5 separate regions of the Homo sapiens genome follow, and all the other regions are linked to region 3. Evidence: fine-mapped expression QTL. A gene starts in region 3. Each other region holds a variant in brackets. All regions are shown on one strand. Distances are between the middles of the regions. Region 1 overlaps CCDC7 (coiled-coil domain containing 7). Region 2 overlaps CCDC7 (coiled-coil domain containing 7). Region 3 holds the start of CCDC7 (coiled-coil domain containing 7). Region 4 overlaps IATPR (ITGB1 adjacent tumor promoting lncRNA). Region 5 overlaps CCDC7 (coiled-coil domain containing 7).

The links. PIP is the estimated chance that this variant, and not a neighbour inherited with it, causes the effect.
Region 1: its variant is fine-mapped to the expression of CCDC7 in whole blood (INTERVAL, PIP above 0.99). The same link has a PIP of 0.9 or more in lymphoblastoid cells.
Region 2: its variant is fine-mapped to the expression of CCDC7 in whole blood (TOPMed, PIP above 0.99).
Region 4: its variant is fine-mapped to the expression of CCDC7 in esophagus mucosa (GTEx, PIP 0.99).
Region 5: its variant is fine-mapped to the expression of CCDC7 in subcutaneous fat (FUSION, PIP 0.90).

What each region holds. Positions count from the first base shown.
Region 1 is chr10:32,663,310-32,668,418 of GRCh38, forward strand. CCDC7 (coiled-coil domain containing 7) reads left to right here. Exons shown (of 44, transcript NM_001395015.1): 22 at 745-852. Among named protein-coding and RNA genes, the nearest start is that of CCDC7, 220 kb to the left of the region's middle. The variant CT/C (reference allele first, on the strand shown) is at 2,811.
Region 2 is chr10:32,819,126-32,824,234 of GRCh38, forward strand. All of the region lies in intron 32 of CCDC7 (coiled-coil domain containing 7), which reads left to right. Among named protein-coding and RNA genes, the nearest start is that of SNORA86, 80 kb to the right of the region's middle. The variant G/A (reference allele first, on the strand shown) is at 2,306.
Region 3 is chr10:32,443,150-32,448,258 of GRCh38, forward strand. CCDC7 (coiled-coil domain containing 7) reads left to right here and starts at 2,991. Exons shown (of 44, transcript NM_001395015.1): 1 at 2,991-3,248. It overlaps LOC101929431 (a long non-coding RNA gene), which reads right to left and starts at 2,907. Exons shown (of 3, transcript NR_120660.1): 1 at 2,464-2,907. RefSeq lists an enhancer at 2,542-2,861 and a silencer at 2,932-3,161.
Region 4 is chr10:33,104,514-33,109,622 of GRCh38, forward strand. The region is part of intron 1 of IATPR (ITGB1 adjacent tumor promoting lncRNA); the gene reads right to left. Among named protein-coding and RNA genes, the nearest start is that of IATPR, 9.7 kb to the right of the region's middle. The variant G/A (reference allele first, on the strand shown) is at 2,597.
Region 5 is chr10:32,798,103-32,803,211 of GRCh38, forward strand. All of the region lies in intron 30 of CCDC7 (coiled-coil domain containing 7), which reads left to right. Among named protein-coding and RNA genes, the nearest start is that of SNORA86, 100 kb to the right of the region's middle. The variant A/T (reference allele first, on the strand shown) is at 2,170.

The sequences.
Region 1 (5,109 bases), 220 kb after region 3:
GCATTGTAGACACTCAGTGCTAGGAACATGCTTAGATTTAACAATGGTCATTGGATGCAATTTTGCATGTAGGGTCTATGCAAATTTTGGTCACCAACTACTTTGTTTTCTGGTTTATCTTTCCTGTGTTTCAATTTCTAAAAGTAAGTATCTCTTTACATTTATTTCCTAATGGATAGCATACTTGATATCTTTCTTCTATTTCAATTTTTTCTCACTTAACATTACCTTCTATAAATCCCTCTAAATCAGGTTGTAACAATCTTTTTATTACTTTTAGAGCTTCCTGTACAACTCTTTGTATCATATTAAATATTGTAGTTGATAATACCACAAATTATAATATATACCTTTTTATTAACCAATTTCATATGCTTGTACATTTAAGTGATTTTGAGTATTTTGTAATTAAAAGTATGCTGTAATGAATAAACTTGCACATATGAATTTTCATTGCTTTGCCTATGAATATATATTAATCTAAATTATAAATAATTAAGAACAAGTAGAGGCTAATATAAATATTTGATGCCAAGAAATATCAAAATAATGAGACTACTTCACCTCAGATCCTTTAAAGTTCTTGTCACTATTTTCATGTCAGATCTAGAATTATAGTAATTTACTTATATTTTACATGTATAAAAATGAGACAGAATATGGCTGTATACTTGTTATAAATCTGAAATCTAGAAATTTCACTATAGTTTATGTTTAGTGCACTAAATTTATTAATTTGTGTAGCTCATAATGATGTACCAGAAGAAAATCTTATGCTTGAACAAGACACAAAGTCAAAAACGGAAGTAGAAGTAAAGAAACAAAAATCTTTCCAAGATAATCAACTCAGTAGTAAGTGTAATAATTGTAGATAACCTTAAAATAATTTAAGATTTATTTTTAATTGGCAAGTAAAAATTATATACATTCATCATGTACTACATAGTGTTTTAATATATAAATTGTGGAATAATAAATTGTGGAATTTAAATATAAATTGTGGAAAATAAAATCAAGCTATTTAACATGTATATTACCTTGTTATTTTTTTATATTGAGAAGACTTAAAATTTCTCTTAGCAATTTTGCAATATGTTATTATTAACAGTACTCATGAAGTGCAGTAGATCTCTTAAACGTTTCTCATTTCCAGCTGAAATGTGTGTCCTTTGACCAACATTGCTTCAGTCCTCCCACCATCAGCCTCTTATAACCAACATTTTACTCTCTGTTCCTATGAACTTGACTTTTTAAAACTCCTCATATAGGTAAGATAATGCAGTATTTGTTTTTAGTGACTGGCTTACTTTATTTAACATTATGTTCTCCACATTCATCCATATTATCACAAAAGACAAAATTTACTTCCTTTTTTTAAGGGTGATTTTCGTTATCTATTGATCTGTGGCTGGACACTAAGTTTGATTCCGTATCTTGGTTATTGTGAGTAATGTTACAGTGAACATGGGAGTACAAATATCTCTTTTATATACTGATTTCATATCCTTTGGAGGTACATCCAGAGGTGAAATTGTGGATAATATTGTAGTTCTATTTTTAATTTTTTGAGGAATCCCTGTAGTGTTTTCCATTATGGCTTTACTAATTTACATTCCCACCAACAGTGTACAAGTGTTCCCTTCTCTTCACATCTTTGCCAGCACTTCTCTTCCATCTTTTTGATAATAGTTACTTTAGTGTGTGGGAAGTGATATTTCATTGTGGTTTTAATTTGCATGTCCCTGATGATTAGTGATGTTGAACACTTGTTCATATACCTGTTGGCTATTTGCATGTCTTCATTAGAGAAATGTCTATTCAGATCCCATACTCATCTTTTATTTGCGTTGATTGTTTTCTAACTATTGAGTTGTTTGAGCTGCTTCTATAAATTGGATCTTAACTGCTTATCAGATTTATGATTTGGAAATACTTTCTCTCATGCAATAGGCTATTTATTCCTACTGTTGATTGTTTGCTTTGCTGTGCAGAGCTTTTTAGTTTGGTTTAATACCATTTACTTATTTTTGCTTTTATTACCTTGCTTTTGGGGTCATATTAAAAAAATCTTTGCCCAGATCAACATAATTGAGTGTTTCCCATATTTTCTTCTAGCAATTCTAGTTTCAGATCCTAAATTTATGTGTCCTTAATCCAATTTGAGTTGATTTTTGTATATAGTGTGAGATGAAGGTATAATTTTATTCTTCTGCATGTGGATATCTAGTTTTTCAACACCATTGTATATTTTATTCCAGTGATCTACATGTCTGTTTTTGTACCAGTACCATGCTGTCTTGTTTGCTGTAGCTAAATAATATGTTTTAAAATTAGGATGTACAGTGCCTCCAGCTTTGTTTTTCTTGCTCAAGATTGCTTTGGCTATTCAGCGTCTTTTATGGTTACATATGAATTTTTGGATTTTTTCTATTTCTGTCAAAAAATGTTGCTGGGATTTTGATAGGGATTAAATTCATAACTGATGGGCATTTTAACAATATTAATTCTTCCAATCCAGGAACATGGGATATCTTTTTATTTATTTGTGCTTTCTTAAACTTCTTTTACTAATGTTTTATAGTTTTCATTGTAGAACTTTTTTTCCTCCTTGTTTAAATTTATTCCTAGGAACTTAATTTTTTGTAGATATTGTAAATGAGATTACTTTTTGACTTCTTTTTCAGACAGTTCATTGTTAGAGTATAGGAACACTACTAATGTTTGTGTGTTGACTTTCTACCCTGAAAATTTTATGAATTTAATCATTTGGTCTAATAGTTTTTTGGTGGAGTCTTTAGAGTATTCTTTTT[CT/C]TTTTTTTTTTTTTTTCATTGACAAAGAAGTTTCACCGGTGTTATTTAGTCCTTGTGGTAGTCCTTTGGAATAAGCAATGTTATTCCCTTTGATTTACACTGAGACCTAAAGATGATGAAGAGAAGGTAGATTACAAAGATAATAATATAAATAGCTATCATTTACTGAATTACTAATAAATACCAGGTACGGCAGTAGGAAGAACATAATATTTTTCTAACATACACAATAATCCTGCAAGGTTGGACTTAGTATTTCTTTTGTTTTTTTTATACTTTACGTTCTAGGGTACATGTACACAACGTGCAGGTTTGTTACATATATATACATGTGCCGTGTTGGTGTGCTGCACCCATTAACTTGTCATTTACATTAGGTATAACTTCTAATGCTATCGGTCCCCCCTCCCCCCACCCCATGATAGGCCCCAGTGTGTGATGTTCCCCTTCCTGTGTCCAAGTGTTCTCATTGTTCAATTCCTACCTATGAGTGAGAACATGTAGTGTTTGGTTTTTTGTCCTTGCGATAGTTTGCTGAGAATGATGGTTTCCAGCTTCATCCATGTCCTACAAAGGACATGAACTCATCCTTTTTTATGGTTGCGTATTATTCCATGGTGTATATGTGCCACATTTTCTTAATTCAGTCTATCATTGTTGGACATTTGGGTTGGTTCCAAGTCTTTGCTATTGTGAATAGTGCCACAATAAACATACGTGTGCATGTGTCTTTATAGCAGCATGATTTATAATCCTTTGGGTATATACCCAGTAATGGGATGGCTGGGTCAAATGGTATTTCTAGTTCTAGATCCTTGAAGAATTGCCACACTGCCTTCCACAATGGTTGAACTAGTTTACAGTCCCACCAACAGTGTAAAAGCGTTCCTATTTCTCCACATCCTCTCCAGCACCTGTTGTTTCCTGACTTTTTAATGATCACCATTCTAACTGGTGTGAGATGGTATCTCATTGTGGTTTTGATTTGCATTTCTCTGATGGCCAGTGATGATGAGCATTTTGTCATGTGGCTGCATAAATGTCTTCTTTTGAGAAGTGTCTGTTCATATCCTTTGCCCACTTTTTGATAGGTTTGTTTGATTTTTTCTTGTAAATTTGTTTAAGTTCTTTGTAGATTTTGGATATTAGCCCTTTGTCAGATGAGTAGATTGCAAAAATTATCTCCCATTCTGTAGGCTGCCTGTTCACTCTGATGGTAGTTTCTTTTGCTGTGCAGAAACTCTTCAGTTTAATTAGATCCCATTTGTCAATTTTGGCTTTTGTTGCCATTGCTTTTGGTGTTTTAGACATGAAGTCTTTACCCATGCCTATGTCCTGAATGGTATCGCCTAGATTTTCTTCTAGGGTTTTTATGGTTTCAGGTCTAACATTTAAGTCTTTAATCCACGTGAATTAATTTTTGTATAAGGTGTAAGGAAGGGATCCAGTTTCAGCTTTCTACATATGGCTAGCCAGTTTTCCCAGCACCATTTATTAAATAGGGAATCCTTTCCCCATTTCTTGTTTTTCTCAGGTTTGTCAAAGATCAGATGGTTGTAGATGTGTGGTATTATTTCTGAGGGCTCTGTTCTGTCCCATTGGTCCATATCTCTGTTTTGGTACCAGCACCATGCTCTTTTGGTTACTGCAGCCTTGTAGTATAGTTTGAAGTCAGGTAGCGTGATGCCTCCAGCTTTGTTCTTTTGGCTTAGGATTGACTTGGCAATGCAGGCTCTTTTTTGGTTCCATATGAACTTTAAAGTAGTTTTTTCCAATCCTGTGAAGAAAGTCACTGGTAGCTTGATGGGGATGGCATTGAATCTATAAATTACCTTGGGCAGTATGGCCATTTTCACGATATTGATTCTTCCTGCCCATGAGTATGGGATGTTCTTCCATTTGTTTGTATCCTCTTTTATTTCATTGAGCAGTGGTTTGTAGTTCTCCTTGAAGAGGTCCTTCACGTCCCTTGTAAGTTGGATTCCCAGGTGTTTTATTCTCTTTGAAGCAATTGTGAATGGGAGTTCACTCATAATTTGGCTCTCTGTTTGTCTGTTATTGGTGTATAAGAATGCTTGTGATTTTTGCACATTGATTTTGTATCCTGAGACTTTGCTGAAGTTGCCTATCAGCTTAAGGAGATTTTGGGCAGAGATGATGGGGTTTTCTAGATATACAATCATGTCATCTGCAAACAGGAACAATTTGACTTCCTCTTTTCCTAATTGAATACCCTTTATTTCTTTCTCCTGCCTGATTGCCCTGGCCAGAACTTCCAACACTATGTTGGATAGGAGT
Region 2 (5,109 bases), 380 kb after region 3:
AGGGGATATCACCATTGATCCCACAGAAATAGAAACTACCATCAGAGAATACTATAAACACCTCTACACAAATAAACTAGAAAATCTAGAAGAAATGGATACATTCCTTGACACAAACACCCTCCCAAGACCAAACCAGGAAGAAGTTAAATCTCTGAATAGACCAATAACAGGCTCTGAAATTGAGGCAATAATTAATAGCTTACCAACCAAAAAAAGTCCAGGACCAGATGGATTCATAGCTGAATTCTCCCAGAGGTAAAAGGTGGAGCTGTTATGATTCCTTCTGAAACTATTCCAACCAATAGAAAAAGAGGGAATCCTCCCTAACTCATTTTATGAGGTCAGCATCATCCTGATACCAAAGCCTGACAGAGACACAACAAAAAAAAGAGAATTTTAGACCAATATCCCTCATGAACATCGATGCAAAAATCCTCAATAAAATACTGACAAACTGAATCCAGCAGCACATCAAAAAGCTTATCCACCATGATCAAATGGGCTTCATCCCTGGGATGCAAAGCTGGTTCAAAATATGCAAATCAATAAACGTGATCCAGCATATAAACAGAACCAATGACAAAAACCACATGATTATCTCAATAGATGCAGAAAAGGCCTTTGACAAAATTCAACAACCTTCATGCTAAAAACTCTCAATAAATTAGTTATTGATGGGACATATCTCAAAATAATAAGAGCTATCTATGACAAACCCACAGCCAATATCATACTGAATGGGCAAAAACTGGAAGCATTCCCTTTGAAAACTGGCACAAGACAGGGATGTCCTCTCTCACCACTCCTATTCAACATAGTGTTGGAAGTTCTGACCAGGGCAATCAGGCAGGAGAAGGAAATAAAGGGTATTCAATTAGGAAAAGAGGAAGTCACATTGTCCGTGTTTGGAGATGACATGATTGTATATCTAGAAAACCCCACTGTCTCAGTCCAAAATCTCCTTAAGCTGAGAGGCAACTTCAGCAAAGTCTCCAGATACAAAATCAATGTGCAAAAATCACAAGCATTCTTATACACCAATAACAGACAGAAAGCCAAATCATGAGTGAACTCCCATTCACAATTGCTTCAAAGAGAATAAAATACCTAGGAATCCAACTTACAAGGGACAGGAAGGACCTCTTCAAGGAGCACTACAAACTACTGCTCAGTGAAATAAAAGAGGATACAAACAAATGGAAGAACATTCCATGCTCATGGGTAGGAAGAATCAATAGAATTGTGAAAATGGCCATACTGCCCAAGGTAATTTACAGATTCAATGCCATCCCCATTAAGCTACCAATGACTTTCTTCACAGAATTGGAAAAAACTACTTTAAAGTTCATATGGAACCAAAAAAGAGCCCACATTGCCAAGTCAATCCTAAGCCAAAAGAACAAAGCTGGAGGCATCACGCTACCTGACTTCCAACTATACTACAAGGCTACAGTAACCAAAAGAGCATGGTACTGGTACCAAAACAGAGATATAGACCAATGGAACAGGACATAGCCCTCAGAAATAATGCTGCATATCTACAACTATCTGATCTTTGACAAACTTGACAAAAACAAGAAATGGGGAAAGGATTCCCTATTTAATAAATGGTGCTGAGAAAACTGGCTAGCCATATGTAGAAAGCTGAAACTAGATAGCTTCCTTACACCTTATACAAAAATTAATTCAAGATGGATTAAAGACTTAAATGTTAGACCTAAAACCATAAAAACCCTAGAAGAAAACCTAGGCAATACCATTCAGGACATAGGCATGGGTAAGGACTTCATGTCTAAAACACCAAAAGCAATGGCAACAAAAGCCTAAATTGACAAATGGGATCTAATTAAACTGAAGAGCTTCTGCACAGCAAAGGAAACTACCATCAGAGTGAACAGGCAACCTACAGAATGGGAGAAAATTTTTACAATCTACCCATCTGACAAAGGGCTAATATCCAGAATCTACAATGAACTCAAACAAATTTACAAGAAAAAACAACCCCATCAAAAAGTGGGCGAAGGATATGAACAGACACTTCTCAAAAGAAGACATTTATGCAGCCAACGGACACATGAAAAAATGCTCACCATCACTGGCCACCAGAGAAATGCAAATCAAAACCACAATGAGATACCATCTCACACCAGTTAGAATGGCGATCATTAAAAAGTCAGGAAACAACAGGTGCTGGAGAGGATGTGGAGAAATAGGAACACTTTTACACTGTTGGTGGGACTGTAAACTAGTTCAACCATTGTGGAAGTCAGTGTGGCGATTCTTCAGGGATCTAGAACTAGAA[G/A]TACCATTTGACCCAGCCATCCCATTACTGGGTATATACCCAAAGGATTATAAAACATGCTGCTATAAATACACATGCACGCGTATGTTTATTGCGGCACTATTCACAATAGCAAAGACTTGGAACCAACCCAAATGTCCAACAATGATAGACTGGATTAAGAAAAGTGACACATATACACCATGGAATACTATGCAACCATAAAAAAGGATGAGCTCATGTCCTTTGTAGGGACATGGATGAAGCTGGAAATCATCATTCTCAGCAAACTATCGCAAGGCCAAAAAACCAAACACCACATGTTCTCTCTCATAGGTGGGAATTGAACAATGAGAACACTTGGACACAGGAAGGGGAACATCACACACTGGGGCCTGTTGTGGGGTGGGGGTAGGGGGAGGGATAGCATTAGGAGATATACCTAATGTTAAATGATGAGTTAATGGGTGCAGCACACCAACATGGCACATGTATACATATGTAACAAACCTGCACGTTGTGCACATGTACCCTAAAACTTAAAGTATAACAAAAAAAGAAAAACAAACAAAACAATAAATAAAAGTGCTGAAAAAAAAAAATCTACCAACCAATAATTTTATTGCTAGCAAAACTGCTTTTCAGAAAAGGTGAAATATGAAATTACTAAATAAAAATTGAGAGATTTCATTTCTAGCAGAACTGTTTTCCAAGAAATTCTAAAGAAATTTCTTCAGGCTAAAGCTGACCTCTGACAGTAATTTGAAGCCCCCTAAAAAAGGTATGAGTTAAATGTTATAATTGCAAAAGAGAGTATGTACAAATATATATTCCACCTTCTTTCTTTTCTTAATTTATCTAAAAGACAACTGTATAAAAAATTTATATAATTGTATCATTGGGCATATAACATATCAACATGTAATATATTCATGATAGCATCACAAAGGTGATTGGAGGGAGAAGTGATGTAACACTGTAAGAAAATAACACTGGATGATAAATACAGAGCAAGAATAAAAATAACCAAAAAATGTAAATAAGTGTGTTCATGTAACAAATCCTATAAACATGTACTTGATCTTCTTTCTTTTCTCAGTTTATTTAAAAGGCATAAAGTTATACAAAGAAATAATTATAACAATAATTATTACATTGTCCTTAATATTTACAGGTATAATATGTATAACAGTAGCACAAAAACTGGGGAAAGAGAATAAAGGTATATATAAAGGAGTAATGTTTCTGTATCTCAGTAGAATGTAATTAGTGTAAATGTGAAAAAGATTATAAAGTTGACTGAGGTAATACACATTTCTGTAATAAGCATTGAATTGGACACTTTAAATGGAAAAATAGTATGGTTTAAAAATATACACATTTTTAAAAGCTCAGGAACTCTAAGCAGGATAAGATTTTGTAAAATTTAAAGCAACAGGATAATAATGTAAGGGAGGAAAATTGTGACTTTTACTAGTTGATAAATTTCTCCAGCACATAACTTTGTATTCGTAGTGTTTAACTCTAAAATGCTCTACTCATTGACTCCCTGCTTATCTAAAAATCCTCTGATTTCTTAGTTCAAATGAATCAGCCTTTCTTACTTATATCTGTAAGAGAAAGACAAAAGAGCTGAAATACATCTGTTAATGTTCCTCAGTTTTCTGTTGCATATAGCTATTACTTTTACAAAATGTTGTTATTGAATTATTGAAAACTCGTTTTGTCCAATATGATGCTTTTTTTTTTTTGAGATGGTGTCTTGCTCTGTTGCCCAGGCTGGAGTACAGTGATGCAATCTTGGCTCACCACAACCTCCGCCTCCCAGGTTCAAGCAATTATCCTGCCTCAGCCTCCTAAGTAGCTGGGACTAAGGCGCACGCCACCACGCCCTGCTAATTTTTGTGTTTTTAGTAGAGACAAGGTTTCACTATGTTGGCCAGGCTGGTCTCGAACTTGGGACCTCGAGATCTGCCCACCTCGGCCTCCCAAAGTGCTGGGATTACAGGCATGAGCCACTGCACCTGGCCAATATAATGCATTTTTACAATGATGTGTAATCTGGTTTCTGCCTCTATTTGAATTATATTGGTGGTATATTTGGGCTGCCATGATAATAGTGCAAATTTTAACATTAATAATGGGCTCAGCCAATTTTCCAAAGCAAGACTTCCACTCTGTCGTTCAGGATCATTACAGGTGTCCAACTACCATTACATGCTCTGCTAAAACCAACTTTGACACAAAAAACTTCAGGTTTAATAAACCAGGTTTACCAGTTCTAATTATCTGTTTTTCAATATGAAATTCTCTTTAGTAGATTTTTTAGTTTTTCCATCATTATACCTAGATACTAGTTTCTAAATCCAACAAAATGTATAAATCACATAAAACTCAAATGAAAAGGAATACAATCCTAAGGCTAGTACCACTACAAATATTCCCGTTTTCTTCTTCCCAGCTGTAAAGTCCGCCTGCTAAAAGAACCAGAGAGAAGAGACTTTTTTCACATTACATGCGTTATTTATTATTCTTTTTTATCACTGATGCCTATTTGAATTATAGTTACACCACCTAAAATAGACTATTAAAATATTTCTGGATGAGTCAAGGAACTTCTGTTTTATTATATTTTGTGAGTTGTGATGACCATTGTGTGCAGATAGGTCAACTATGAAAAAAAATTGATGTTCCACCTCACCAGATATACCCCTACAACATATATATGTTCTTAATATATACTTGAAAGTTATGTTATTACCACAAACTATCTAGTGTGATTTAAATTTGCATATGAGATTGCATTATATGGAAAAAATAGTTAA
Region 3 (5,109 bases):
GACTTGGAACCACCTGTCTTCAGGGAGTAAGCTTAGGAAATAATAGGGATCATCTTAAATTTGTTTCCTGTTATGCAGGGGTCATTATCATTATCTGATAACCGAGGTATAAAAATTCATTGTTTCATATATTTTGTCTGATTCTTTACTTATTCCAGACAGGAGGATAAACCCAGTTGCTGTTACTCCATCTTGGCTGGAAGCAGAACCCTTCACATAAACCCAGTTGCTGTTACTCCATCTTGGCTGGAAGCAGAACCCTTCACATTATCCCTTGAAGGATAATATGTATGGTATGTGTCCATGGCACAAAGTCTATGATTTAATTTAAATTAACTTTCAGGTATGGCACGAGGCAGGGGTCATGGATAATTTTTTTTCTCTCAATGATATCAGCTTTCATTTTCATTGTTGGAAAGATTTTTCTTTCCCCATTGAAGTGCACTGGCACTGTTTAAAATCAATTGACTTTATATATGTGGATATATTTCTTAACCCTCTATTTGTTCCATTTTTGTCTAACTTCGTGTAATATACTATTTTACTATAACTTTATAACTCTTGAAAACCTGTAGTATATGTCATTTAAATATTTGCTTATTTTTTTCAAGATTGTTTTGGCTCTAGCCTTTTTCATTTCCATATAAATTGCAAAATTATTTTCCCAATTTCTAGAAAATAATCTTCTTGGATTTTGATCATAAACGCATTTAATGTGTAGATAAATATTGATAGACATAGACTTAAAAAGTTGACATTTTAGCAATATTGGGTCTTCTAATCCATTAATATGGTACATAATCTCCATTAATTTGGATCTTCTTTAATTTCTCTCAGTAATGTTATATAGTTTTCATTGTAGATGTCTGGAAATTGTATGTTGTCTGGGAATACAGCTTTATTTCTTTCATTGAAATCATTATGCCTTTATTTCTTTTTCTTGCCTTATTGCACTTGTTAAGACCTCCAGTATAATACTGAATAGACATAGTGAGAGCAAATATCCTTGCCTCCTTCCAATCTTAAGGAAAAATCAATTTTTCACTATTGAAAATGATGTTAGCTGGAGATAGTTCACAGATGTCCTTCATCAGATGAAAAAGTTCCTCTCTATTCATAAGTATTGTTTGTTTTCAAAGAATAATCGATTCATGTCACAGACTCAAACCACTGCAAAATTTGATATTACATGCTTAAATTTATTAACTTTTTAAACTTCTTTGCTTTACATTGTCAGCACTGATAACTTTTCTGTGGTTCTTAGCTGTGCTATTAAGGCCACAGATATGAATGGTGAACTTTTGGCTAGACTCATGCTGAGAGTTTTGCTAATGTATGCTAACTTGACAACTTGACCGTTAAGATTTTACCAACAAAATTAGAAATGACTAGATGTAATCTATTTTCAGGGTTCTAGAAAATAACTGAAATTGGCTTTGTCAAATCTAAGGTCTTCTTTAATCTCTCCTGACTTTTAGTTCTATCTTTCCTATCCCTTTCATTTACAACGGTTTTGGGAGATTTGGAATTTAGCAATTCAATTCTTTCTAAACTACTTTCTTAATTTTATTGCCAACTTTAAAAAATAAAAAATTGTTGGTGGAAAGCTTAATAAATCTGATCATTTATATGTACATTTTCTTTGTTACTGACATAAAACACACATACTGAAAAGTGCATAAATAAGCATATGCCTTCATGTTTTTTTTTTTTTTTCTTTTTTAGATGGAGTCTCGCTCTGTTGCCCAGGCTGGAGCGCAATGGCACAATCTCGGCTCACTGCAACCTCCACCTCCTGGGTTCAAGTGATTCTCCTGCCTCAGCCTCCTAAGTAGCTGGGATTACAGGCACCCGCCATCACGCCCGGCTAATTTTTGTATTTTTAGTAGAGATGGGGTTTCACCATGTTGGCCAGGCTAGTCTCGAACTCCTGACCTCGAGTGATGCACTGCCTCAGGCTCCCAAAGTGCTGGGATTACAGGTGCGAGCCACCACGCCCAGCCTGCCTTCATGAATTTTTGAACACACCCAGAAAGAGCAGAAGACAGAACATTTCTGGTACACCAGAAGATGTGTTGTTTTCCCTTTCCAGGCAACCCCAATGGTAACTCCTAGTGGTGTGATGGAGCTAGCCTACACCAGCTCTTGGGAGCTGATAAATTTTCAGGAATCTCTTGTGAGGCATTCAGATTTTACTGGAAAATTAGAAATAATTAGATATAATGAATTTTCAGAGTTTTAGAAAATAGTTGAAATCTACTAAGTCAAATCTAAGGTCTCCTTTAAACCTCCTGGTTTTTAGTTTTAGTTCCATCTTTCCTATTCCTTTCATTTACACACAGGCATTATTAACAGTTAAATTGTATCAATTAATATTTTAAAATATTAAAAACATTTTACTTCGTTCAACTTAAAGACAAAATTAATATATTTCTTGAGGTCAAATTATCTAAAAAACTCTACCTTGTAAAATTGCATCTTAAAGCAGTGCGTGGAAACTGATGGCAAGAAACCACTTAAGTGTCACAACTCTGCTTCAAGTTAATTCCTAGTCCATTTGATTTTGTTTTGCTTTTAAGATCACGAAGCTGGTGTACACTTCCGTGCGAGCTTAGAGTGGTAATGAACTCCACAATACACTGAAAAGAGCTTGAGGAGACAGCAGATGAAGGACTGGGGCTCTGGTTTTGTAGCTGAAGCCCAGGTTCTCAAAGGTCCTACCAGGCCTGTACTTTATTTCTCCTCCGCGGGCCTCTAGGCCAAATGCCTGGATGAATCTGCGCTCAGGGGGCGTCCTGGAATTACACTTGGGAGAGAATAAGAAAGGAGGAGGCCGATGTGCCCATGGACATTATTAACCTTCCGGCAAATCCCCACAGCCGCCAAACTGCGTCTCCTCTTCCGCTCTCGGCGCGCAGCTCACGCTCGCAGCGTCAGCGACGCCGGCGGCGCCAAGGCGTCGTGGCGTCGGGCGCCTGGGACGTGGCTTCAACGGCCCCATCCGGCGCCGGCGGCGGGTGCCCGGCGGTCTTTGCTGCCGCCCGGGGGCGCAGAGGCCGGGCCTTTTCTTTCAGCACAAACGTCAGTTTGTAAAAGGGAGGTGCTGGAGTCTGAGGAGTTTTCAGGCTTCCGTCTCGAAGGAAGTCTGGCAGGCTCGGAATTGTCATCTTCCTCAGGCAAATAGTTTTTCACCTTAGAGCCAGCAAGGCCAAACCGCCCAGTCACCCGACTTCCCACAGTCTCAGCAGGTACACAGGGCGGGGAGCCTCGGGAGCGGCTCCCTTAGCAGGACCTGAGGGTTTCGGGAGAGTCCTGGCTTTGCACTTAGTTTTCCCGCTGCCTGGCTGCCTCCGTGGCGGTTGTGCTGCTTTTTATGCAGGATGTAGGATCGAAGGCAAATCATCCTTTCCCTACGTCCCCTGCCAACCCCTGCCGCTCTCCTCTATTTTGTACACTTTATCATTAAAGGATTTGAAATGAATGTAAGTTAATCCTTGAAGGATGAAACCAGAAAACATTTGTCGTGGTGGCGGAAAGGGACGGATGCACTTGGGCGAAGTAATGCTGACATCCACTTCCTAGCATTGTTAGGAGGGATAAATGAATTAAATATGTAAAGTCCTTAAATATTTGCTTGCTAATACGAGTATTCATTGCGTGTGACTATTTTTGTATTTATGTGAACTTCATCGGAGCATTTGTCAGGTTCTTTTTTTTTGCACCAAGTGAGCGTTGCCTGCCTGCCTGCCTGCCTGCCTCCCTCCCTCCCTCCCTTCCTTCCTTCCCCTCTTCCCTTCCTCCCTCCCTCCCTCCCTCCCTCCCTCCCTCACACTTTTTTGGGGAGAGAGGACACAATGCAATCCATAACAGCATATACACTTGTTCTTTTTTCCATCGAACTTTCCTCTTGACCATGTTTTCTTCTAGTAATACTGTATTTCTTTACTCCCTTTTATAGTAAAATTTCTCTACAGTGCTTATATTCAATTCATTGTTCCTACTTCCTCTCTTTTGAACGGTAAGTCAGATATTTACCTCGATCATTCTACTGAAATTGTTGCCGTTCTTCAGGTTACAAATGACCTACCTCCATGTTGCCAAATCCAGTGTCAGCTTAGTCTTCATTTTACTTGACTCAGCATTTGACGTAGTTCATCACTCGGTCCTTGGTGATATTTTCTTTTCCTTGCTTTCTATGTATATATAACCTTTTGGTTTTACTTATTGGCTCATTGGCCACTCTTCTTACGTCCTGTTTCCTGGTCCTGATGGTTTTGATGGAATTTTTGATGTTTGCTTGGACCTGAAGGTTTTGATGGAGTTTCTTTGGCAATGTAATTTATTCAGAATTCTTTTGAGGCTTTTCAATTTTGTAAATTTAATCTTGGTTTCTGCATCATTTTGCTTGTATCATTAATTTTTACTGAAAGCATCGTGTCACAATCGGCATGAGAAAAATGTAAAAGGGAGCAGGGCGCACAGTGGCTCAGGCGTGTAATCCCAGCACTTTGGGAGGCTGAGGTGGGAGGATCACCTGAGGTCAGAAGTTCGAGACCAGCTTGGCCAACGTGGTGAAACCCTGTCACTATTAAAAATACAAAAATTAGCCGGACGTGGCAGTGGGCACCTGTAATCCCAGCTACTTGGGAGGCTGAGGCAGGAGAATCGCTTGAACCTGGGAGGCAAAGTTTGCAGTGAGCAAGATTGTGCCATTGTACTCCAGCCTGGGCGACAAGAGCGAAACTCTGTCTCAAAAAAACGAAAAATGTAAAAGGGAATATTTTGCAGGGGCTTTGGTTCAAGTTCTATAATGTGTTTATTTACTATTATCATCAGTAATTTCCAAGAGAGCATTGTGTTCTTCCTTCAAATGGATTTTTAGTGACAAGTTATTTTTGCAAAGTCATATTTGATTATGATTTAAAAATTATGCTTGGCAACTATGCATTCAGTTAACTATAGTGTTAACTATAGTGTTTCATCGAAACAAAAAAGCAGTTGTATAATTCTTGGATGAAATAAACATTTTCAGTGCTATTAAGATATTTTCGTTCTATTGTTCACAACCTAGTTTAGAATTTTTATTTTTGAGAATTTTCTGTTTGTGCT
Region 4 (5,109 bases), 660 kb after region 3:
CTATTGACAGGTGATTTTTCTGGCTCAGGTTCCAAGCTGACTTGAAAAATGCCATTATGAGTTTTCTGCTGTTTTCATTTAATGGCTGAAACATCAGGTCTTGAAAACTTCAACTGGTCACTTCCTCTAAGCTACTCAGAAAAATATTTCCCTTTTATTAGTGTCCGAACTGTGCATGCATGTATGTGTTACCTCAATGCCCACTATGGTGGTCTGTTTTTAAGCTGGTCCTCTGTGATCCCTGTCTCCAGTATGTATGCCTTGGTATATGGTCCTCTTCACTTGAATGTGGACAAGCCTTAGTTACTATTGTCTACCAGCTAGAATATGGCAAAAATCATGGTATGCCATTTTCAAGATGAAGATATGAAAAGACTGCACCTTCCATTAGGGGTATCTTCTCTCACATTCTGTCTCTTGGAATCCTCATCTGAGGAAAGGCACATCCTATGTTGTAAACAGCCTTATGGGGTGGCCCACATGACAAGGACTTGATGTCTCTAGCCAAAAGACAGTGAAGACTTGAAGCTTGCCAATGGAACGTGAGTGAACCCAGAAGCAGATCCTTCCCGGTTTGAGCCTTCAGATGACAACAGCCCCAGCCAGCACCTGCACTGCAGCCTTGTGAGGTACCCTGAGCTGGAGGACCCAGCTAAGCTGTTCTTGGATTTCTGACCCACAGAAACTGTGAGATCATAAATGCTTGCTGCTTTAAGCTGTTAAATTTGGGCTAATTTATTATACACAATAAATAACAAGTACATCCACTTATAGTGGGTTTGTGAAATAAAATTGAGGCATGTTCATGTGATAGGACATAGGTCAGTCATTAAAATGTGAAATAGAAGAATATTTAATAACATGACAAAATATTCACAATACACTGTTATTTAACAATATCAAATTGTTGTTAAACAACTGGTACTATATGGTACAAGATATATGTGAAAAATACTAAATTTATATTCACCAGCATGGGTTAAATATCGAAAATGGAATTTATGGCTGGAATATTTGTTATTTGACGTACTTTCTACATGTACTTTTAAAAGCATGTGCATGACTTTTAAAAGCAGAGGAGAAAAAACAATGCACTCTTAGACTGCACACAGAGGGCAGACCTTAAGCATGGATCTAGTATAGCCACACTTGAAGATACCAGGACATTTTGAGGGGGATTTTTAACCTACTGAACACAAACTGATAGCTAGCACTGTTCAAGCTCAACTTCAACACTGCAGATGAGTAATTCATTTAAAATAAATATTCATTATTTATTAGGATCCAGGAATGCCTTCTTCCATAGGCGTATTCAGCACATCAGAAATGTCCTTGAAGCACCCATAATTTCAGCCCTTTGGAAGGCTGAGGCAGGTGATCACTGGAGGCCAGGACTTCGTGATCAGCCTGGCCAATATGGTGAAATCCCGTGTCTCCTAAAAATACAAAAATTAGCCAGGTGTAGTGGCACATGCCTGTAATCCCAGCTACTCGGGAGGGTGAGGCAGGAGAATCCCTTGAACCTGGGAGGCGGAGGTTGCAGTGAGCCAAGATCACACCACTGCACTCCAGCCTGGGTAACAAAGTGAGACTCTGTCTCAAAACGAACAAACAAACAGACAAAAAGGAAATGCCCTTAAATCTTTAGTTGCACTGGTTATCCATCCGAGGTTCAGGCACCCTCACTGAAAATGTCATAGAGAGCTTCTGTGGCTCACAAGGAGAGTTGTTAGATCACAGGTAGTCGGTCAGCCAGAACAAGACAAAGCCTGGGAAAATTCAGTGCTTAGGACTTGATTTTTAAATCGCTTTGCCAACTTAATAGAGGCTTAAAATTTTCCATACAATTCCCATACTAGTGATATGGACAGGAGGTGGGGAAATACTGGGTAGAAGAGGGTGGTTCCCCGGCAAAGTCCTCACCCTCAGGCCTGGAAACCGCGGCCCTAAATGAGAACGGTTATCCTTGTTTTTCAGCCCAAATGTTACTTTTTTGGTTCTCCTTGTCCCTTCCCCACCATCTTGTGCCCATATAAATCCCAGACCTCAGCTGTCAGATAGTCAAGCAGCTGAACATGGAGAGGAGAAGGAGCAACTGAGTGTTAGAGACTATGGATAGAGGTGGCTTAACTTCAGAAGGCATGACTCCAGCCGCGCTTCAGGAAAAGATCACCTTCTTTCGGCACCATCATCTTTCCAGCTCCCCTCCGCTAAGAGCCACCTCCATCACTCAGTAAAACCTCTGCATTCACCATCCTTCAAGTCCGTGTGACCTGATTCTTCCTGGATGCTGGACAAGAATCAGGGTACCAAGAGGGCAGGGTGTATGCCACCGTGATTCTCCACTGAGCTGGTTAACACTTAGCCATCCGTGGACGGCAAATACTAAAAGAGAATTGTTTGCAACACATGCCCTCTGGGGCTCCAGAGGTCGGGGGCAACCCCTAGAGGCTGCTGTGGACCAGTACAGGGTTCGTTCCTGCTGGCGCCTAAAGACACTCACCCTGGCTCTTTCACCCGCTCACCTGCATGCTCCTCCTCCCACAAGGGGTTTAAGCTCTGCTGAGCAAAATGAGCCGCCCCCCACCCCACTGTC[G/A]CAGGTCCCACAAGGGGGTCAGGGAACTCTCCCATCTCACTGGTTTCCTCAAAGCAGTAAGACACTAGAACTCACTTTTTCTAGGTGGAGATGAAATCCGTATACTGCAGTTGAATAGCTGCCACAGCAAATAGAAATGACCGCTATGGTTTGTTCCTAATTATGGTTTTAAATTTCTATAGGATCTCTTCACTTTGGGGAGAACTTTTTCACTATTGGCTTTTGGAAATAGACATTATAGTGATTTGGCTCAAACAGAAAAAAAAGGCTTCTTTCTGAAAAATCTAGAATTTTCATCAGTTTTGCATTCATTCTAATTAAACGTAGGTGTAATATTAAAGTGAAGTAACCTCATCCTCATTTCTTAGGAAAAACATCAACCAAAACCGTATTTTTCATGTTTCATTTCAGTTTCTCTAAAGTATCAGTGCACTGTCCATCATAAGCAATTGAAAGAGTTTGTGCTAGTAACTGCTTTGCAGGATATCAGAGTGAGTTCAGACAGCCTGAGTTTGTTCCCCATCCCACCATTCAGTGACTCTGTGACTTTCAATTCCTCAGTTTCCCTTATCTGTATCACAAGCACTTGCTTCACAGAACGTTAGGAGGGTGAATTTAGCGAATGTTGTTAGAACCATGTCAGCTATGAAGCATGTGCTCAGTAGATATACTCATTACTCTGGAGACTGATCAATATAGTCTCAGTAGAACTCTTTCTGAAGACAGACTTGGTTTCAATGAACAATTTAATCAATGGGAAATATTTTGTAGAAATAGAGAATTTAACAAACTCTTGGATTATCCAATGCTGCATGATAAATTGATGGAGTCAGAAGACAAAGTGCAATGCAGGCTTACTGGGTAAAGCCCAAATTCCTCAATCTTTTGGAAATGAGAAGAAGGACGCTTAAAGCTCATTATTGTCATGGATCTGGGAGGTTTTTACAATTCCCAGGAAGGTTTAGAGGAAGGTTTAGATGGCTATTAATGTAACTGACCCCAGGCGACTCTGACCCAGGAAGTTCACAACAGCCTTCCCAATGAATCAGGTCAAAAGGTCACCTTTTTTTTTTTTTTTTTTTTTTTTCAGAGAACGGGGAAGATGCTAATGTGGGAACTGGTTAGGAGAGCATCTGGACATTGCTATTCTTAATTATTCTGGAAGCAAAGAGCAGAACAGTTGAATCACTTTAATGAGAGTTACAACTTGCTGAGGTTAAACCAGTGTCCGCATCTGGGAACCCATGCAAACTATTCAGGAGGTAAAGAAAGAGACCAGGAAGGTAGATAGAAAAATAGGGAACTCACTTTTTAGGATTTTTTCGAGCCTATTTTGTTAATATCAGTATCTATCCTTCCCTTTGTATTCTTGTGAGTCTTCTTTTCAATTTCTTCTAAGGGACTTGATACAAGCTTGGGTTTGGGACATGTTCTTACTAATGGACCAAAGGATAACATCAATAGCACCAGGTACCTGTTCTACACCACATGCATCATATGTATCATCTCAGTTAATCTTCACAATAATCTTGTAAGGATGAGACTTGAACCTTCATTTGACAGATGAGGAACCTAACGCTCAGAAAGGGTAAGCAATTTGCTTAAAGTTACACAGCTCAGACATGGCAAGTTGAAGTTTAATCACAGGTGCACCGGAGTTCAATGCCTAGACCCTTTCCTCTGCTTGTTCCAGGGTCTCAGAGGAGGAAAGGAGAACAATTTATGTCAGATAAACTTATTTGCCCAAAACATGTGTAGGAATTTACGTCACTGCACTCATTTCTACAGCCTCGTTTGTTCACAAAATGCTCTAATCACAGATAAGTGGGAGCCACCTTTCTGAACAGAGAATCGTTGGAGTAACTTCAAAGCCACCAGAAATGTAGGGGAGTTTGGGATAGAACCTTGAAATAATTTTTGGTTACCAGTAAGCACAACAAATAAAACAGTGAAGTCATTCGTAGGAAGATGTGAGAAAGTGTTTAAAACACAACTTTTGAGAGTTAGAAAGACCTAGAAAGAGTATCACTGGTTCCCTTGGGGATTTCACCAGTCCTTAGCTACAACACAGTCAGTTGTATAGAGCTTTCGGATGTGCGTATATGTACAATTTCGAAAAAGTTCAATTGGTTCAATTGCAGAAAGCTGCCCCAATCTGCACATGGGCCAATTTCCATTTGGTGCTGAAACAGTTTTATAGAAATTGCAATAATGTAGCCCACTCGCTGCATGGACAGAAGCTGCCTATTTCAAGTTAGGTGTTCATTCAATTTTCTTGTCCTTTATTTCTATATTTAGTTTATTCCCTTCCAAAGATGTGTAACGATAAGAAAGAGAGAAGAAGTAAGGAAGGAAGATATTTTCTTTTCTCTATATGTGTGTTTTATCAACACAGCCTCAGCTTGAGATCTCTTGGGAAAAGCATTTCAAGACAGGCAGAATGATGTCCTTCCTGCCACAACATAATTTTCCAGTTGCCAGGGGAAAACTACATATTGTACCCAAAACAACAA
Region 5 (5,109 bases), 350 kb after region 3:
GCAGAATCATTGTATGCATCATAGGCAAACGCATAACTGGAGTACGTGTCTATTCTGGTGAGGACAAACCTCTGCCCTTTCCATGATAACAGAGGTCCAATATAATCAACCTGCCACCAAGTAGCTGGCTGATCACCCCGAGGAATGGTGCCATATAGAGGGCTCAGTGTTGGTCTTTGCTGCTGGCAAATTGGACACACAGCAGTGGCCGTAGCCAGATCAGCCTTGGTGAGTGGAAGTCCACATTGCTGAGCCCATGCGTAACCTCCATCCCTGCCACCATGGCCACTTTGTTCATGGGCCCATTGGGCAATGACAGGCGTGGCTGAGGAAAGAGGCTGAGTGGTGTCCACAGAACGGGTCATCCTCTCCACTTGATTATTAAAGTCCTCCTCTGCTGAGGTCACCCGTTGGTGAGCACTCACTTGGGATACAAATATCTTCACAGTTTTTGACCATTCAGAGAGGTCCATCCACATACCTCTTCCCCAAATGTCTTTGTCACCAATTTTTCACTCATGCTTCTTCCAAGACCCTGACCATCCAGGCAAACTATTGGCTACAGCCCATGAATCAGCATATAATTGCACATCTGGCCATTTCTCCTTCCATGCAGAGTGCACAACCAGGTGCACTGCTCAAAGTTCTGCCCACTGGGAAAATTTCTCTTCACTGCTGTCCTTCAGGGATGTCCTAGAAAGGGGCTGTAGTGCTGTAGCTGTCCACTGTTGGGTGGTGCCTGTGTATCATGCAGAATCATCTGTGAACCAGACCCTACTATTCTCTTCCTCTGTCCACTGATCATAGGGAACTCCCCATGGGGCCACTGGTGCAGGCTAGGGGAGAGAAGGCAGGGTGGCAGGAGTGGGGACCATGGGCATTTGAGCCACTTCCTCATGTAACTTACTTGTGCCTTTAGGAGCTGCTCGAGCCCGATCATGTATATACCACTTCCATTTGATGATGGAATGCTGCTGCGTATCACCTACTTTATGGCTAGATGGGTCAGAAAGCACCCAGTTCATGATAAGCAGTTCAGGTTGCATTGTGACTTGATGACCCATAGTCAAATGTTTAGTTTCTACCAAAGCCCAGTAACAGGCCAAGAGCTGACTCTCAAAAGGAGAATGATTATCTGCAGAAGACGGCAGGGCCTTGCTCCAAAATCCGAGAGGGCTCCACTGTGATTCACCTATGGGGGCCTGCCAATGTCTCCAAACAGCATCCCTATCTGCCACTGACACTTCACGCACCATTGGGTATGCTGGGTCATATGACCCAAATGGCAGAGCAGCTTGCATAGCACCCTGGACTTATTGCAGAGCCTTCTCCTGTTCTGGACCCCACTAAAAATTGGCAGCCTTTTGGGTCCCTGGATAAATGGGCCAAAATAACACACCAAAATGAGGAATGTGTTGCCTCCAAAATCCAAATAGGCCCACTAGGTGTTGTGACTCCTTCTTGGTTGTAGGAGGGGCCAAATGCAGCAACTTATCCTTCACCTTTCTAAGGTGATATTCTAAGGAATATCTTGACAGGCCCCACACCACTGGATCCCTAGAAATTTTACTGAGGTAAAAGGTCCCTGAATTTTAGTTGGATTTATTTCCCATCCTCTGGCATGCAAATGTCTCACCAATAAGTCCAGTGTGTTTGCTACTTCTCACTCTCTGGATCCAATCAGCATAATGTCATCAATATAATGGACCAGTGTGATATCTTGTGGAAGGGAAAAGCAAACAAGATCTCTCCAAACAAGATTATGACACAAAGCTGGAGAGTTGATATATCCCTGAGGTAGTACAGTAAAGGTATGTTGCTGGCCTTGCCCACTGAAGGCAAATTGCTTCTGGTGGGCCTTATGGACAGGAATGGAGCAAAAGGCATTTGCCAAGTCAGTGGCCACATACCAGGTATCAGGAGATGTGTTAATTTGCTCAAGCAATGAAACTACATCTGATACAGCAGCTGCAGTTGGAGTAAACCCTTTGTTAAGCTTACGATAATCCACTATCATTCTCCAAGATCCACCTGTCTTCTACACAGGCCAAATGGGAGAGTTGAACAGGGATGTGGTGGGAATCACCACCCCTGCATCTTTCAAGACCTTGATGGTGGCAGTAATCTCTGCAATTTTTGTAAGGATGCGATATTATTTTGATGTATGAT[A/T]TTTCTAGGTAGAGGCAGTTCTAATGGCTTCCATTTGGCCTTTCCCACCATAACAGCCCTCACTTTACCAGTCAGGGAGCCAATGTGGAGGTTCTGCCAGCTACTAAGTATGTCTGTCCCAATTATGCATTCTGGCACTGGGGAAATGACCACAGGGTGAGTCCAAGGACCCACTGGAGCCACTCTATGTTGGATCTGAGCTAAAACTCCATTAATTACCTGACCTCCATAAGCCCCTACCTTAACTGGAGGATCACAATAACATTTTTGAGTCCCCCGGAATCAATGTCAGCTCAGAGCCAGTGACCAGTAGTCCCTGAAAGGTCTGATTATTTCCCTTTCCCCTATGCACAGTTACCCTAGTAAAAGGCTGGAGGTCTCTTTGGGGAAAGATGGAAGAAAGATTAACAGCATAAACTGTTGGTAGTGTAGTGGGATCCTTCCTCAAGGGGATCCAGCCTTTCCTTCAAGTAAAGTGGTTCAAGTTTACAAACTGTAAACTGGTTCAAGTCTGGAAATTGGTTGAGGGTCCATGATTCTGTCTTTATAATTCAAATCAGTCTTTTGTCCACTTGACATGGAATTTTCTGCTTATATAAATTAAGTAAAAATGCAGTGGGCTTCCTAGCAATTTCACTTCTAGAAACACCGTGATTAATTAGCCAATGCCAGAGCTCTACATGAGTCAGACTATTCTGATTGCTACTTTGCCTCTGCTGTCCATTGCAGTAACTATGCCCACCTTGCCTTTGATGGTTGAGTGCCACCGCTTGGCCTCTGCCATCTTGGGATCCAATTATTCCCACTGCATTTAAATTTTATAGCTGAAGTGACTGTGGTTCCCACTGTAAGATCGGCATACAGAGAAGAGCAATCACAGAGCTCTTCAAGGATGCAGGTGCTGCCCACACAAATCTATTTCTCGAAGTATTGGTCAAGATTATGTCTTCTGGACCCTCCCAGCTGGGATGAGTAGGTCTAAAGTGACTAATCCACTCTAGCATCCTGATCTCCTAAGACTTTGGATCTTTTTCTCTACATTAAACCAAGAGAGATCAGGCATTTCCAGCTCGCTCACAGTGGGCCATCTTTTAATCCATATTTCAGCTAACAAAGCCAATAAACTATTAGAATCTTTTTTAACTCCCCAGTCTGCAACATTAAATGCAGAATCCCTGCTTAGTGGGCCTAAATCAATAAATTAAGCCTGTTCCAACTTTGTGTTCCTTCCACCATTATCCTACACCCTTAATATTCATTCTCATGCATGTGCTCCAGATTTCTGCTTAAATAAATTAGAAAACTCAAGCAGTTCTTTTGGAGTGTAGTGCACCTCCATGTGGGTTACACTTTGAACCTCAACTCCAGGGGTCTGCCAGGACTTCAGCCTAATTATAGGTCTAGAAGCAAACAGGGGTGTTGGGAGTGGGTCCTGAGGAAAATCAGCATTGTCTTGCCTGGCACCTGCCCCAAGGGAGGCCATCACTGTTACCTCAGGCAGTGCAGGGTTAATTTCCTCAGCAAATGTGGAAGGGCTGATGGCAGCGTGGGTCATAGATTGGGAAGGGGATGTTGCCACCACTTGGAGTGGGGAGGCTGTTTCCTCCGCCCAAAAAGTCTCATCAGAATTTAGGAGCTCAGTGCCTCCAGCCTCATCAGGGTCCTCCCACATGTCCCCATTTTAAGTTGCATGGTCCCATTCTTTTCCAATCAATGTCCTCACTTTAATAGTGGATACCTGGTGAGGTTGTGCATGCATCTTTTGTTGCAGGTCAGCCACTCACAGGATAAGAGCTTGTGTCTGATTTTCCACAATTTCAGCTTTTTTTCTACAGAAGATAAGACTCTCACTTAGGGCAACCTTAGAAGATTTGAGGCTTAGTATGTGCTTCTAGAGCCGGGAGATAGAATCCCTGACTTCATTTTCTTTTATCACATTGTCTAGTGAACTTAGGAGCAACCAACCAACTTCTTTACATTCCGTAGTTCTTCACATATGGTCAAAGGTATTATGTATAGAGTTACTAAACTCCTTGCATCTCTTGAGCAGTGAATCAGGAGTATCAAATGCATTTATTTTGCATAACTCTCTAAACAGTTCACACCAAGAACTATCAGTGTTCTCCATACTATTAGAAGTAGAATCCTTAGCATTTTTGGGTCTAATCATATTAAGCAGGCAACTCCAGAAACCCCAAAGGCAACTAAATACTCCATCCTTAAAATTCTGTTCCTCTAGAACCACTCCCAGTACCAAAATCTGTATTAGGGTTCTCTTGAGGGCTGGACTAAGAGGATAGATATATAGACAAAAGGGAGTTTATTAAGGAGTATTGACTCACACAATCAAAAGGTGAGGTTCCTCAGTAGGCCATCTGCAAGCTGAGGAGCAAGGAATCCAGTCCTATTTCCAAAACCTCAAAAGTAGGGAAGCTGACAGTGCAGCAGAAGGCCTGAGAGCCCCTGGAAAACTACTGGTGTAGGTCCAAGAGTCCAAAAGCTGAAGAACTTCGAGTCTGGTGTTGAAGGGCAGGAAGCATCCAGCACAGGTGAAAGATGTAGGCTAGGAGACTAAGCCAGTTTAGTCTTTCACATTCTTCTGCCTGCTTTTATTCTGGCCATTCTGGCAGCTGATTAGGTGGTGCCCACCCAGATTGAGAGTGGATCTGCCTCTCCTAGTCCACTGACTCAAATGTTAATTTCCTTTGGCAACACCCTCACAGACACACCCAGGAACAATACTTTGCATCCTTCAATCCAATCACATTGATACCTTGTTTTATTTCATCATAATTTGAGAAGATAACTGATATGATTTTGACTTTTTAATATTTGTTTAGACTTGTTTGTGGCCTGATATGTGATCTTCCATGTGCCAATGAGAAGCATGTGTATTCTGCACTTGATCTTAGCCAAAAGGCGAAGTGATGAGAATGTGTA